Regions from separate parts of the Homo sapiens genome. Here region 1 is linked to region 2. The links come from fine-mapping of genetic effects on gene expression. A gene starts in region 2. The other region holds a variant in brackets. All regions are shown on one strand. Distances are from middle to middle. Region 1 has its middle 22 kb from the start of PTGES. Region 2 holds the start of PTGES (prostaglandin E synthase).

Region 1 (5,366 bases), 21 kb before region 2:
ACCGCAGAGGGTTGAGAGACAGAGGAGGGGGCCCCCACAGGGCCTGTGGTTTGAGTGAGGAAAGCAATTGTGTAAAAGTGGAGAGCCTTTCCGCAGCCCAGGGCCAGTCCCTGCCTGAGTCATGCTAGAGAGAGAGGGAGGAGCAGGCAGGATCCTGGAGCTCCCTGGATTTCAAGCTGGCCGTGGCCTCCCGGGTGACGTCACTGCGGTCATTGCCTGATGAGCTCAGGCAGAGGCGCCTGGGGACGGGGTAAGTGGTGAGAGGGAGGGCCACGGCTGTCTTGGGTGAACCCCAGGCTCCAGTTGGAGACTCTGCTGTGGCAAGAGGTCCACCCCACCCCCGGGCGCCATCTGGGGACACTCCGGCATCCCATTCCAATGGCTGTTCTGCCAGGGCCTCACCCTGGCTCTTGGTCTTAGGACTGCTGTGTTTGCCTGCCTAGGTGTGCGGGTCAATCTGTGCAGAGCTGGGGAGCAAGTGATCACTGGGAGCAAAGACAGCTTTCAGCCTGGAGGGAGAAGCATTTCTTCCCGCTAGGATAATGGCCAATTCAGAGGCCCTAGACCATGCTGTCCCCAGAGCCTGGGTGCATTGCTGATGACGAGATCCCAGCCGGGGGTCAGGCCTCCCAGGACTGTCAAGCTGGGCTGCTTGAGTCCCTGGCTCCAGGGGTGGGGGTGGGGCTGAATGGCAAGGGAGAGAGCTGGTCCATTCCAGGCTCCAACCTCAGAACCCTCTGGGAGTAAGATTACCCAGCCCTGTGCTCGGGCTGAGCAATCAACTATAGCGCACACGCTCCTTTACTGTGGTTCCGAGATAGTTAATTGAAATCTGGATACTCTGGGTAAAGTCAGAACATCCAGCTGGGCCCAGCATGGGAGATCAGCTTGATGAGTCTCCCGCACCCTATTCTGGGCATCAGCAGAGTCAGTTCTCTGAAGAGTCTTTTTCATATATATCACATAGATAGAGAGATAGGCAGGTTGGTAGGTAGGTAGATAGGTCAATAGGTAGGTAGGTAGGTAGTTAGACATAGGTATCTATCTATCTATCTATCTATCTATCTATCTATCTATCTATCTATCTATCTATCTATCTTACTGTAGTTTAGCACAGACATTGGTTAAGTCATGTCACTCCTCTGAACCTCAATTTTCTCATCTCTAAAATGGGGATATTAGGCCGGGCGAGGTAGCTCATGCCTGTAATCCCAGCACTTTGGGAGGCCAAGGCAGGTGGATCACCTGAGGTCAGGAGTTCAAAACCAGCCTGGCAAACATGGTGAAACCCTGTCTCTACTAAAAAATACAAAAAAAATTAGCCAGGTGTGGTGGCACGCACCTGAAGTCCCAGCTACTCGGGAGGCTGAGGCAGGAGAATTGCTTGAGACTGGGAGCCAGAGGTTGCAGTGAGCCAAGATCACACCATTGCACTCCAGCCTGGGTGACAGAGCAAGACTCTGCCTCTAAAAAATATAAAATAAAATAAAATAAAATAGAGATAATAATAGACCCACCTCCTAGGATTGCTACATGAGGGCAATGAACTGATCTACATAAAGCACCAAGCATAGTGTCTGGCAGGTAAAGTTGGCCAGTAATGTCATCAACATTGTTATATAATAATAATTATTGTCATTAATTTTATTGCCCAACTGGCGTCCCAGCCTGAGCTGAAGCTCTGTCTCTTGGCCACCCTGTCCAGGAGGTATGAGCCTGTTTTCTTGGGCCAGATCTTCTGCTTGGCTTGAAGCCAAAGTGTGACTTCCCAACCTCTGCATGCAGCCCCCTCCCCAGGGTGCTGGTTGGTCTCTCCTCTCAGCTGCTGCTGCAATGTGCTTCACAGTGACAACACACCCACAGCTCCAGTGGCAGTTGATGCATCCTTGTGGCCAGAATCATGCCTGGCAGGACGCATGTGGCAAAGGGCTTGTCTGGGTCGGTGCTATGCTCTCTGTGCCAGGGAAAATCCAGCTCTTGGAGTGGGTGAGAGCAGGGAGGCCTTCATGGTGGTGGAGTTAGGGGATGGGAGAGACAGGGAAGCAATGAGGGGCTTGCACAGAAAATATCGTTTTACCCTAAGTACCCAGATGACAAATGAGACCCAAAATGACCTTTGGCAGGGGCCGTGGCTTCTGGGGACCCCAGCGTTTGACAGAGCAGGTGGCAGAGCCGCAGGACCCAGCTCTAGTGTGTGGCAGTTTGTTGGTTTCATTGCCGTTGCTGGGCCAGACGTGCACTGAGGACCCCGGGATAAAGGGGTTTACTGTGAGGATGCTGGGGCCCAAGACCTCGTGGGCACAGGACCCAGGTGAAGACCCCAGGGCCCGTGAAGAGCCGAAGTGGATTTCACTGTAGGGGCTTCTTGTCATCCCCAGGGGTACACATTCTTGTGGCCGCTCCTGCTGCTGGCAGCCGAGTCCTTGGCCACGAGCCCAGCCTCCTCTG[G/T]GGGGTGGGTCTCAGCCCAGGCCCACATCGGGCTGTTGATTTCATTGGCTGCTGGCTGGCCTCGCCATTGGCTGCTTGCAGCCAGGTGCTCACCCCTGCCCATCAGCTGTGGCCATGGTGGTGCCAGCAGGGAGAGGAGCATGTGACTTGCACGTGAGGAGTAGCCGAAGGCTTCTTCCCTAGGGGACATGTGTCTACCTCGGGGCGATGCGTCTACCTGTGGATGGGGAGGGACCCCTTATTGGGGCCCAGGCAGGTCCGCATTCTGGGCCTTGTCCAGTACACCCTCTGGTTTCCAACCAGCCAACCAGGCTCCTGGGGGACCCACCAACCCTCCCCTTTCTTCTCCGTACTTCTCTCCTCACCTGGTAGACACACATGTCTTCATTTTGGTTCTTACGTTGAGAGACAAACCCATCCTTCCCTCCCTTTCTTCCTTCCTCCCTCCCTCCCTCCCTCCCTCCCTTCCTTCTCTCTCCCCTTCCTTCCTTCCTTTCTTTCTTTCTTTCTTTCTTTCTTTCTTTCTTTCTTTCTTTGTTTCTTTCTTTCTTTCCTTCCTTCCTTCTTTCTTTCTTTCTTTGTTGGTTTCTTTCTTTCTTTGTTTCTTTCCTTCCTTCTTTGTTTGTTTGTTTCTTTGTTTCTTTCTTTCTTTCTTTTTTCTTCCTTTCTTTCTTTCTCTCTGTCTCTCTTTCTCTCTTTCTTTTCTTTCTTTCTTGCACCTAGGTTGGAGTGCAGTGGCATGATCATGGCTCACTGCAGCCTCGACCTCCCAGCCTCAAGTGATCCTCCCTCCTCAGCCTCCTAAGTAGCTAGGACCACAGACATACACCACCATGCCTGGCTATTTTTTTTTTTTTTAACTTTTTGTAGAGACAAGATCTCCCTGTATTGCCCAGGCTGGTCTCAGACTCCTAAGGCTCAAGTGATCCTCCTGCCTCGATCTCCCAAAGTGCTGAGATTACAGGCATGAGCCACTGCACCCAGCCTGAGACAATGCTTTCTCTACCAGTCTCTACCCCATTGCACTAATAGTCAGTGGAAGGCTGCAGACCTTCACACGTGAGTCCCTGGCCCTGGGCCTCAGGCAGGGTTTGCTGGGTGTATGTTTACCCAATAGTTGTGGGAAAGTGGGTGCTGACCTCACCGGGTGCGGAGGACAGGGTGTTAAGCGGCTCCCACAAAACACTCCCTCCTCCTCGGGCTATGTTGGCAGAAGCACATCTAACCCTGGCGACCCAAGGTCATGAGGGGGATGAGTTAACTTCCTTGTGTGTCCTAAGCGGCTGCTGTGTATTTGTTGACTGTCTCAGAGTAAATGTGGTTGGTTTACTCACTTTCTACCCCTTTTAGCTGGTGGGACTGGTTAAAAGCTTGTCCTCTGCATAAAAGCTTTGCCTCTGGGATTAGCCTGGCCTGGTTGAGTCTCAGTTGTTGAAATAACAACAGCAATACCAATAGCAGTGATAGCTTACATGTAACACCAGGTATGATTTCCTACCTGGACTATCTCAGTAATCCTAGGAGGAAGGTCTATTATCATGTCCATTTTAGAGAAGGAAGAAGTGAGGCTCAGTATGGTGCTCAGCTAGGAAGCAGTAGAGCCTGGTGGTAACCAGGCAGGGGCTCAGAGCTTCTCTCCTTCCTGCTCCTTAGCTGATGGGCCATCGTGGGCAGGTTACTTGGCCTCTCCAGGACTCGGATTCCCCTTGTCTGCAAATGGGTCAAGAAAGTTTAATGTGGCTGGGTGCGGTGGCTCACACCTGTAATCCCAGCACTTTGGGAGGCCGAGGTGGGTGGATCATGAGATCAAGAGATCGAGACCATCCTGGCCAACATGGTGAAACCCTGTCTCTACTAAAAATACAAAAATTAGCCAGGTGTGGTGGCGCACGCCTGTAGTCCCAGCTGCTTAGGAGGCTGAGGGAAGAGAATCACTTGAACCTGGGAGGCGGAGGTTGCAGTGAGCCAACATCATACCACTGCACTCCAGCATGGTGACAGAGCCAGACTCTGTCTAAAAAAAAAAAAGGTTTAATGTGGCAGGGTACGCTGATTCACGCCTGTAATCCCTGCACTTTGGGAGGCCAAGGTGGGTGGATCACTTGAGGTGAGAGTTCGAGACTAGCCTGGCCAGCATAGTGAAACGCTGTCTCTCCTAAAAATACAAAAAATTAGCCGGGCGTGGTGGCAGGCACCTGTAATCCCAGCTACTCCGGAGACTGAGGCAGGAGAATCGCTTGAACCCAGGAGGCGGAGGTTTCAGTGAGCTGAGATCACACCACTGTAATCCAGCCTGGGTGACAGAGCAAGACTCCATCTCAGAAAAAAAAAAAAAGAAAAAAGAAAGCTTAATGCATGAAGTGGTTACAGAAAATAAGCACTTTTCAAACAGTGAAACTCAGCCCCTAGTTTGGGATTATTATCTTGGATGGAAAGGGGAGTTTTTTTTGTTTTTGTTTTTGTTTCTTTTTTAACATTTCCCATTTCACAGATGGAGGGAAGAGTGATTTTTGCTGCTCTTTCTGCATTAAGTTAGAGTTTGTAGAGGTGACCTTTAAGACCAGCTTGCTCAAAATCAGCCCGCGACTTGGGCACCTCCCTCAAAGGCAGCTTCATCTTTGTATTGTTTGTTTTGTTTTTGAGATGGGCTCTTGCCATGTTGCCCAGGCTGGAGTGCAGTGGCTATTCACAGGCATGATCATAGCTCACTGCAGCCTCGAGCTTCTGGGTTGGAGCAATCCTCCTGCTTCAGCCTCCCGAGTAGCTGGGACTATAGGCCTGTGCCACCATGGCCGGCTAGCTTTTTGTTTCTTTGTAGAGATGGGGTCTCGAACTCCTGGTCTCAAACAGTCTTTCTGCCTTGGCCTCCCAAAGTGCTGGGATTACAGGTGTGAGCCACTACTGCACCTGGCCCTAGA
Region 2 (5,325 bases):
ACGATTCTGGGGGTGGTACAGCCACCAGACCCCAACCTCATAGCTGAGCTTTTTGACAAGGAAGGTAGCTACCTGCAGGGGTTCCCACGGGCTGGGGGCGAGAGAGGCAGGGATTCTCTCTTCTCCGACAGAAATATCAGCCAGAAGCGAGCTTGCACAGCTCCTCCAACAGACAACCAGAGATAAAACGTGTCTCAGGGCATCTTGTACTTTCCATGTTCCGTCCCTGATGGTATGGTGACCTATCATTTATCTTGTGGGGCCGGGACAGCCTGGCCTGGCAGTTCCCCACGGGAGTCAGTTTATCAAGCACATCTTTTGTTCGGATAAAGGACTGCTTGGCACACAGCAAATGGGCAAGGCACCACCCCCACCTTGCTCACACCCACCTCCCCCAGCAACAAGGGCAGGGATTTCTATGAGTCTCCCTCCTGACAACCCTACTAGGTAGGGATCATTATTCCCTTTGAGCAGGAGGAAACGGAAGCTCAGAGGATGATACTGAACGGAGTGCCTACTTGTTCCAGGGGCTTCATAATTATTTAGCTCCCACAACTGCGCTGGGGAGTGACTTAGGGTCAGCTGCATTTTACAGCTGAGGAAACTGGTTCAGAGGAGGAACCTGCCTGCCTAAGGCCACACAGCTACAGCTGAGGGCTGGCTTTGGGATTCGAGGCTGGCTAAATCTAGCTCTGGCCAATCTTCCCTTTGATCTCTGCTGCTTTGGGGCATAGGTTGGACTGACACAGCTGTCTCTCTGGGCAGGTGCTGTCCCAAAGCACCTGGTCAAGCCCAAGAGTGAAGTAGGCATGGGAGACTGGTTTCTCCCTTTCCCCTTTGCCCCACTTCCCCAGGGCACCTCTCAGCAAAGCCAAATATGTTGGCGAAAATAAATGAGCAAGAACCGTGTACAAGATCCCTGCCCTTGGCCAGGTGCGGTGGCTCATGCCTGTAATCCCAGCACTTTGGGAGGCCGAGGTGGGTGGATCACAAGGTCAAGAGATTGAGACCATCCTGGCCAACATGGTGAAACCCCGTCTCTACTAAAAATACAAAAATTATCTGGGCGTGGTGGTGGGCACCTGTAGTCCTAGCTACTTGGGAGGCGGAGGCAGGAGAATTGCTTGAACCTGGAGGTGGAGGTTGCAGTGAGCAGAGATCACGCCATTGCACTCCAGCCTGGGTGATAGAGCAGGAGTCTGTCTCACAAGAAAAAAAAAAAAAGATCCCTGACCTTGTGGAGGTCCTGCCAGAACCCGGGGAAGCGGGCAGGATGCAGCAAGGTGAGGATTTTTTTTGAGACAGAGTCTCGGTCTGTCGCCCAGGCTGGAGTACAGTGGTGCAATCTTGGCTCACTGCACCTCCACCTCCCAGGTTGAAGCGATTCTCCCGCCTCAGCCTCCCAAGTAGCTGGGATTACAGGTGTCTGCCATCACATCTGGCTAATTTTTGTATTTTTAGTAGAGAGGGGATTTCACCACGTTGGCCAGGCTGGTCTCGAACTTCTGACCTCAGATAATCTGCCCCCCTCGGCCTCCCAAAGTGCTGGGATTACATGTGTGAGCCACCTGGCCAAGGTGAGGATTTTGAGGTGAGGGATTCAAAGAATCTTAGAAAACAAACGTTGATGCTTTCTTTCTTTTTTGAGACAGGGTCTTGCTCTGTCACCCAGGCTAGAGTGCAGTGGTGAGAACATGGCTCACTGCAGCCTCAGCCTCCTGGGTTCAGGTGATCCTCCCACTTCAGCCTCCTGAGTAGCTGGGAATACAGGCGAGCACCACCATGCCCAGCTAATTAAAACATTTTTTTGTAGAGACGGAGTCTCCCTATGTTGCCCAGGCTGGTCTTGAACTTCTGACTTCAGGTAATCTGTCCCCCTTGGCCTCCCAAGGGGCTGGAATTACAGGTGTGAGCCACCGCGCCCGGCCTGGTGATGCTTTCTACTGAAGAGTCAGTTGATAGGTCTTTCGGGGAGATCTTGTGATGAAGAATCAAAGCATTTGACTGGGGAAAGAGTTCCAGGATAGTCAAGTGATGCTCAGGAAGTCAGTGGAGCCACGTGCTGGTTCCCCATCCCTGCTATAGCAAATTACCACAGACTTAGTGGCTTAAAACAACACAGCTTCATTCTCTGACAGTTCTGGTGGATGAAGCCTGAAATGGGTCTCACAGGGCTAAAATCAAAGTGTCGGGAGGGCTGCGTTCTGTCTGAACGCAGAGAGTTTGTTTCGTCCCCTTTTCCAGTTTCTAGAGGCCCCTGGTATTCCTTGGGCCATGATCTCTCCTTCATCTTCAAGGCCAGCAGGTTAGCGTCTCTCCTGTCTGACCCCTATTCTGTCCTTTCATCTCCTCTCTTAATGCTGCCTCTGTTTTTATATCTTTTCTCTAATTTTACTGCCTCCCTCTTGGAAGGGCCCCTCTGTATACTCTGGGCTCACCCAGATAAACTAGGATAATTTCTCCCATCTCAAATCCTTACGAAATCCCATGTGAAAAGTCCCTTTTGCCACATAGTCACAGTCACGGGTTCTAGGGATTGGGACATGGATGTCTTTAGGGGTGGAGGGCGTCCTTCAGCCTGCCACAGATGGCAAAGTCATGCCATTGTGGCTGCAGCTCCATTGTCCAGGCTGAGTGTGGGGGCGCATGGCGTGGTTCTCATGCCCACCACCTACCCTGACCCTGCGGAGGTGGGCAGGAGGCAGCGATAATCACCACGTGCAGAGGTCCTGCCAGGTGCCCAGCCTCATCATTCCCTAGAAGGCAGGCACCACCACATGCTCCCACACTGTAGATAAGGAAACAGCTTTGAAACAGATTTGAAAGTGTTTGAGGATTTGCCTGGAAGGAGGGCTCCAGAGCCAGGGACTGGGTCCGGGACACCCGGAGACTCTCTGCTTCTTGGAGCTCCGGCAACTGCTTGTCTTTCTCTTCACAGGAGAAGGGGGCCCTGCTGCCGCTGCCGTGGGGCGGGGCGTGGGCGGTGCTGGCTGCAGGAAGGCTCTCCCCTCCCACTTTGTGCTTTCCCTGCAGGCTGCTCCTCTGTCGAGCTGATCACACCCACAGTTGAGCTGCGCTGGCCAGAGATGCCTGCCCACAGCCTGGTGATGAGCAGCCCGGCCCTCCCGGCCTTCCTGCTCTGCAGCACGCTGCTGGTCATCAAGATGTACGTGGTGGCCATCATCACGGGCCAAGTGAGGCTGCGGAAGAAGGTATGTGCCTCCCTGGGGGTCCCCGGCCTGGGTCATACTTGCTTCTCTCCACGTCCTGTCAGGAAAGCCCCGGGATAGGGAAACATGGCCAAGGTGTGTGCAGGGCTGGGAGGTGAGCACCTCTTCCAGCCCCGCCGGGGGGCTTCCTGCCAGTCCCACGTGTCAGCAAGGCCTGCACCTTCTCCTCTCTGGCTTAAGAGCACTTACTCGCTTGCCGTGCCACCGGGCTGAGTTCTTGGCATGGAGAGAGCCAGCGAGTGTCTGTGAGAGAAGCAGGTTCTGGAGGGTGGAGTGTGGGAGCGTGACAGCACAAAGCCTCTGTCTAACCTGGTGGCTTCCCGGCACGGGAGGTCTGATATCTGGGTGGAGTGGGAACCGGCAAAACAGGAGTCCGAGAAACGTTTAAGTGGAAATTCCCAACTCCTGGCAAATGTCACTAACAAGCCCACTGTAGCCTCCAAAGGCCAGCTCCCAGCCGGGCACCGTCGGGGTGCTCAGCGAGGAATTTCCCCACTAATCCGAGCCCCTGAACCAAAACAACATTAACGAGTCCCAGAGCTGGGCCGGGGCAAGTTCCAGTAGCGTCCGTCACACTGGTTGGCGAGTCTGCAAAGTCATAGGCTGAGCTTGTCGGCTGTCCTGGCGGCAGAATGCAGAAAGACCCCAGGCACCTGTTACTTCCTCCCCAGGTATTTTAATAAAGCAATCATTTCCTGAAACTGTCTCTGTCTTCCCCTGTGTCCAGTTCAAAGGCGAGGTGAGGCAAGGCTGGCTCTGGCACTGCATGCGGGTGGATCCTGGGGAGTGAGGATCTTGGCCACAAGCCAGGCTCAGGCCCTGCTGCAGGTACAGGCAGGATTAAAGGCAGGGCAGCTGCCCAAGTGATAGGATGCCCGGAGGCTACAGCACACTGATAGCTTCTGACTTCTCCCTGCCTTGGCTGGTCCTGGGATATGGGATCCGGGCATCAAGTAGAACAGCTGCATTCACTCATTGAATCCTTCCCAGAGGACCGAATGTGGCCCGGAGCTGAGCATGAGATCCCCGCCACAGCCCTGAGGGCAGGGGAGGCGCCATAGTCATCCTGTTTTCTAGGTGAGGAACCTGGGCTCAGAGAGGAGACATCACTTATGAAGGTCACACAGCCCGGTTTGAACTCCAGTGTCCAGCTTCAGAGCCCACATCCTGTCTTGGAGGCGGGGGTTTCTGTTTTGTTTTTTTTTTCTGCTGTCCAGGCTGGAGTGCAGCGGCATGATCTCTGCTTACTGCAACCTCCACCTCCTGGGTTCAAGCAATTCTACTGCCTCAGCCTCCCCGGTAGCTGGCATTACAGACACACACCACCATGCCCTGCTAATTTTTGTATTTTTAGTAGAGATGGGGTTTCACCATGTTGGCCAGGCTGGTCTTGAACCCCTGACCTCAGGTGATCCACCCGCCTCAGCCTCCCAAAGTGTTGGAATTACAGGCGTGAGCCACCGCACCTGGCTGAGGCCTGGGTTCTTACCAGCAGGCCAGCGATTCCTTTTTTTTTTTTTTTTTTAATTATTATTTATTTATTTTAGAGACAGGGTCTTGCTCTGTGGCCCAGGCTGGAGTGCAATTGTGCGATCATAGCTCACTGTAGCCTCGACTTCCTGGGCTCAGGTGATCCTCCCACTTCAGCCTCCCAAGTAGCTGGGACTATAGGTGTGCGTCACTGCTCCTAATTTTTTATGTTTTTGGTAGAGATGGCTTTTGCCATGTTGCCCAGGCTGGTCTCAAACTCCTGGGCTCAAGTGATCCTCCCATCTTGGCCTCCTGGAGTTCTGGGATTACAGGTGTGAGCCACTGTGCCCAGCTGTGATTTCCTTTTAACACGAATTCGGGGAAGGGAGGAGGTGAACCTGTCCCAGAGCCTTTCTGCCTGATTGGCAGGGACACCGCAGAAGGAAACCCCCACTCCTTGGGCTGCTCCTGAGGTGTTCCTCATGACAACGTGGCCCCCTCTTATCTCTGCTCTGGGCGCTAAGTATCATCCAGGAAGGACTTGCTGGAGGTGACAGTCACAGGCCCTGGCTCCTCCACCCACCAGCCTGGGGACCTGGAAAAGTCTGGGAGCTCAGTGTCCTCA

What was found. PIP is the estimated chance that this variant, and not a neighbour inherited with it, causes the effect.
Region 1: its variant is fine-mapped to the expression of PTGES in whole blood (INTERVAL, PIP above 0.99).

What each region holds. Positions count from the first base shown.
Region 1 is chr9:129,772,103-129,777,468 of GRCh38, reverse strand. No RefSeq gene overlaps it. Among named protein-coding and RNA genes, the nearest start is that of PTGES, 22 kb to the right of the region's middle. RefSeq lists enhancers at 5-299, 1-445, 1,837-2,403. The variant G/T (reference allele first, on the strand shown) is at 2,449.
Region 2 is chr9:129,750,774-129,756,098 of GRCh38, reverse strand. It overlaps PTGES (prostaglandin E synthase), which reads left to right and starts at 3,057. Exons shown (of 3, transcript NM_004878.5): 1 at 3,057-3,212. The coding sequence starts at 3,087.